Regions from separate parts of the Homo sapiens genome. Here region 1 is linked to region 2. The links come from fine-mapping of genetic effects on gene expression. Tissue or cell type: testis. Region 2 holds a variant in brackets; the other region holds the start of a gene. All regions are shown on one strand. Distances are between the middles of the regions.

Region 1 (2,685 bases), 340 kb after region 2:
AAGTCAAACGCAGTTTGGAATATATATTTTTTAAAAATTGTAACTTACATATCCAAATACAATTTTTCAAGAAGTAGAGTATTCAGTAGAAATTAATCTGTGAAAGAAGAGGAATTCAGCAGTGGCCTATTTGATGAATGATTTAACGTGCTTATTTCTTCCCTTTCATCAAAACTCTGTGTCCCCTTGTTTGCCCCCTCTGACTTCATACTCTGGAGTTGACCAAGATCCCTCTTCCATCGGATTGTTCTGGGAATTTTGAAATAATCTGCTTTTTCCTCTCTTTCCCCTGTTGCTTCTGATGCCTTAGAATTACATTTTCCTCGCTGATTTAGTTTAGAAAAGAGAAAAGAGCTTCCATGACTAGTAGATTATCACTTTTGGGTTTGCTCTTGGAAGTGACAAGATGCTAGGATCCCTCTTTGGAATGTAAAATTTATCTCTTATATAGAAAGGATATAAATGTAGCACCAGAGACTATAAAACTCTGATACTATCTACTGTACTGTATAGCTGAACGCCACAATGTGTCTGGTAATCTATTGACTATCATAAATGCTATTTCTACAGAAAAGTTAGGAGGTCCATATTTCGGGCAACCAATGTATAGCTGAATGCAGAACAGTCATAGTTGGGTACTAACCATATATATGATTTATCCATCAACAGGTGCATATGCTCAGAAATTCTGTATCCATAAGAAATCAGACTACTTTCTTTTCCTTTTGCAAGTAAATTGAATTTAGCCTGAGAGGCTGAGGGGAAATTTTCACATATAAGCCACGGTTTTGTGTTTTGTGTTTTGTTTTGTTTATAGATATAGTACTAACTGGATGGATGCGATAAAATTCATAGGTGGTACTAAGATACAATAGGATTTGTGAAATGGACAATTGTCTTGCATAAATAGCAAGTAAAAAATCAAGCCTGTCCTTCATAAAAATTTTATTCTGGGGTGTGCTTGTTTTCCAAAAGTACCTCTGCTAAATCTCCTGTTAGTCCTGAAACTAGAAGGCAGAAAAGCTTCTAGTGCTACAGCCAACTGCAGTGTAGCCTGAGAAACAGGCAACAAAAATAGAACACCAGGATTGCTGTGCGTGGGTGAGGCAGAAACCACATTATGAGCAAAAGCTTCCAGTATTATTTTAGAACCAATACAGAGCTCTGTACTTCTCTCCTCTCTCTTCCAAAAACACATACTACAAAAATAAAATGAAATGAAATGTATGTGCATTTGCCCTCTTAGAATTATGATTCTTAATTTTTTTTCTTGCCTTCCTTTCTTTGGAAGCGAATCGCCAGTATGGAAACACAGTGTGTAAAGCAAGCTTCGAGAGAGGAAAGAGTTAATTGGTTTTAAGGCCCTGCGATAGAGAATTATGGTTGGAAAGATAGAGGCTGGACAGCTGGGTTTGCTGGGGTATTTTTAAATGCATTAATGCAGGCTCCAATCACTCGGCCATGCTTGACCTATTTTTGGCTCAGGCCGACCATTGTTCTATTTCTGTGCCTGTGGGCCATGCTGTTGTTGATTCATATGCAAATGGATTATCACTCGCTTTAGCCAACTTGAGCTGAGAGAGACTGAGAAAGGGGGAAGAGAGGCACAGACACAGATAGGAGAAGGGCACCGGCTGGAGCCACTTGCAGGACTGAGGGTTTTTGCAACAAAACCCTAGCAGCCTGAAGAACTCTAAGCCAGGTTTAATTGGTTTCTTTTTCTCGTGGGTAGACTTAATAATTTTCTACGTATTCTGACAAAGAAATAACCCCGAAGCACGTTCCTATTTCCCACCTGCTTGTAGTTTCCGGGATAACCTAAACTCCAGAGAGCTATAGCATCCACTCTGTCCTTTCTGCTTTGCACACAGGTTGGTAACATGGGAAAAGTGTCCAGGTCTTTTTAAAAGTGGATGCCCATTTGAGCAGAAAGGAAATCATTGTCGAAGTTGATCCTCTGCTGCTTCTCCTCAGGGAGGAGGGAGAACCAGCGAGGGTAGCTCCTGGGGCCGGTGCACTGAGCAGTGATGAATGTTTCATGTAGCTGAAGTAAGAGTGACTGGAATATGCTGCAGACAATTTACGAGAGTGACTCCTGTTTTTCCTCAGATGGGGTGGCTGGACGAGAGCAGCTCTTGGCTCAGCAAAGAATGCACAGTATGATCAGCTCAGGTAAGATCCTCTTTCATAACTGAGACGTTTTAGGTTTGAAAGGGGGCTGGCTTGGGAAATGCAGCTAAGAAAAGCACCTCTCTTAAGGAAATTGCTGCTTTTTCGTGTTGATGTTGCTATTTTCTTGGTGCGTCTGTAGGGTTTAACTTAGATCCCTTCCATTACTGTTTCTGTGCATATTCAGTCTGCTTAGGGACAGCAGCTTCTGAATGAAATTGCAAACTATTGCTTCTGATGAAAGATGAGACTGAGATAAGTAAAATGTAGTTGGGGGTGTTTTGCCTTTACTATGCAACTAGAAAAAGGAGCTGTGTACTGATTGTAAGCCTATTCTAATAGGACTTTAAAAATCAGGTAAGTTCATATTGGGGCTTCAGTTTAAACTGCAGCCCCGCTAGCCTGACGATTTTATATTTACTCTGTGCCTACAGAAGCACATCTATTTATAGACCTACCTTCTAAAATGTGTTTGCCACAGAGTTATAAAGGTAGTTTTCTTTTTTCCATTATGTG
Region 2 (2,685 bases):
AAAGGGACCCTTACTTTAGCAAAGTCCCACAACTTTTCTGTCTGGGTATTCATCCACATCACTCTCTGTTCCAACACTGCTACTCCTCCAACTCACTAAACAGGTTTTATTTTCCCAATATCACTCGATTCTCAGACTCTTGAAGATCAGAGATAAAATTAAGTGCATCTTTTATGCCCAAAATAAGTGTGTCAAGATTTTTTCACTATTTTTTTCTTAAGGAAGTATTGCAGAGGAACTTAAGAGTGAGTGACAGTTGACAAAAAGAAATGGTTGCCTGGAAACTGGCAATTTAAATAACTAGGAGCTGATATGATTTACCAGCCTGATAAACAGCTAGGACTTTAATACAATCTAAAGGGCTGCTACAGATGTTGGATTGAGCTATTTATATGTGTTAATCTGTCTCAGTCTATTTTAATACATGCATATATATATGCATTTTTTTTTTGCAGAACTGGAATATAAAAGCAAAGGCTGTATCTCTTCCCCTATATGACATTAATAGAAATAATAGAAATTGCCTTCAATTAAATGAATTGTTTTGGTCCCCTTGTTTTTATATAGATTTTCAGTTTCAAAGGTGGCTTTCTCACTCAGGGGGAATAGATGTCTTGTGGATTGAGTGCGGAGTTTGTTTTGAGTTCTGACACTGTAATTATATACTTAGTAATTGTTACCTTGTTTTTTCAGGTTTTATCATTTGAAACTTTACTCCATTTGTTGAGATGGAGTTGCAGATACTTTTGATTCTTCACAGGAATAATGAGGTTTAATAGGATTGGTTCTGAGTGAGTTAGCTTAATCAAGTAGCCTGTTTTACTGATGGGATCATTAAGAGGCTTTATCCTCTCATGGGCCAGTTAGTTTCCTGGAGCAGGTGAATGTCTTTGCAGCCTCCTTGATCCTCACTAGACATCTTTCACATGGTTCTTCGAAGAGATGATAGAAAAGCTGCAGCCTATATTGTACTGTAATCATAGTATAGTAACCCAGAGTTCCCTCTTCTGGCAGGAGGTCAGTACTATCATTTTGTGTATAAATAACTGATGGCATATTTGTGAAGCTGTCTGTATAAAATTCCACTATCTCCTTGGGAATG[G/A]AATGTGCTACATACAACAAACTATCATCATGTTACTAGCATAAAACTTGAGATAATTTTGAGGATAATTTTGACAGTGGAAATGTTTTATGATATGAGGAATATAAAAATAGATCATTTAATTCACAGAATAGTTGAAGGACACAGCAAGGTAATTTTTAAATTGTTTCTTGCAATTGTTTACAATTCACTGAGCGTAGTAGCTATGACTTGGAGAACTTCTGGGAAAGGAGGACATTTTTACCACCCATGCATGTTTGAATAAATTTCAGTCTCCTAAAGCTGTGCACCAGCTCTTTCATGTATCTTCCCTTCTACCTCTAATCACAGTGAGAACTCCCTACTCCTAATTCCTGTAGCACTTGTGCTGTCCCATTTTTTTTTTTTTAAAGAAAATAGCTATCAGGGCTGCAGTGTTTCACAATTTGAGGGGCAGTTTGTAACACAGAGGCCCTGAATGTCATAATGTCTCACATATATTGAGCAGTATGCTAAGTATTTTAAATATATTATCACTCATCCCTAGTGACCCTGCAAGTAACTATTAGAGCCAGCAACTTACCAGTGAGGAAACTGAAGGTCAGAATGGTAAATAATTTGCCTGTGAAAATACGGCAATTGGAATTTGCATTAAGGTCAGCCAGACTCCAAAGTCAGGGTTCTTTTCCTTGTTCTGCTCTCTATATATGTTTGTTATTTTGTTTCTTAATTGTTCATATGCATATGTTGTTTCTCTTGTGCTTCTCATACTTTAGCTTAGTTAAGAATCACCATGGAAACTTGTTTAAAATGCTGTTTCTGGGCCCTTGTCCTAAAGATTCTGATTCAGAAGGTCTCAGATAAGTCCTGAGTGTCTGCATCTGCATTTTCTGAGGGGTTCTTGGACTGTACTCTGAGAAATCACTGGTATGAAATCTGGGAGACAGGAGCTATCTGAACAACTCCCCCAGCTCTGAACATTCATAGCAAGCACTCAATAAGTACATGTTACATTCAAGCAGAGCTAACTTGCTCCTGTGCAAAATATAGCCCACAAGGTTCCATAGCATGAACTTGGATTGTTCTTAACTTGAATATAAAGTTTGTGTAAGTTAGAAAAGTCAATACTAATTATAGGGTGAAGTTCAAAGAACAATATCTGATATGATTCATTTTTTACAAATTGGTGTATTCTGGAAATTTAGGTGTATCCTAAATTAGGTGTATTGGTGTGTTTTCACAAGGAAGTTTCTGTAGACAAAGGAACAGCATTGGCTAGAAAAGAACCAGAGAGGGACGGAATTGAAGTTAGTTGTAGGTATAAAGTAGGGTTCTTTGGAAGGGGAGGAGGAGATGGAGATAAAGATGGGAGATGAGGTTGGTTCAACTCATTAGTGAAGGTAAGTTCTTTGGAAAGGGGCCAAATAACCAGTGGCCTAATCAATTGCAAGGGATTCTGGAGAAACCTAGTAGAAAAGAGGGTCACAGATGTGTTAGCGGTGAAAAGAATTGGACCAAACGCACAGACAAAGCAAGGAAAGAATAAAGTGACAACAGCAGAGATTTGCTGAAAATGAAAGTACACTCCACGGGGTGGGAGTGGC

Which allele goes with the higher level. Positions count from the first base shown, and alleles are read on the strand shown. Sizes are in standard deviations (SD) of each study's normalised expression.
As copies of A replace G in region 2, the expression in testis of the gene that starts at base 1,597 in region 1 goes down (moderate effect, 0.40 SD a copy in GTEx).

The links. PIP is the estimated chance that this variant, and not a neighbour inherited with it, causes the effect.
Region 1: HDAC9 starts here. The variant in region 2 is fine-mapped to the expression of HDAC9 in testis (GTEx, PIP 0.94).

The regions. Positions count from the first base shown.
Region 1 is chr7:18,494,153-18,496,837 of GRCh38, forward strand. It overlaps HDAC9 (histone deacetylase 9), which reads left to right and starts at 1,597. Exons shown (of 26, transcript NM_178425.4): 1 at 1,597-1,871; 2 at 2,110-2,172. The coding sequence starts at 2,151. RefSeq lists an enhancer at 1,326-1,375.
Region 2 is chr7:18,150,627-18,153,311 of GRCh38, forward strand. It overlaps a transcript of HDAC9 not described here. Among named protein-coding and RNA genes, the nearest start is that of MIR1302-6, 25 kb to the left of the region's middle. The variant G/A (reference allele first, on the strand shown) is at 1,103.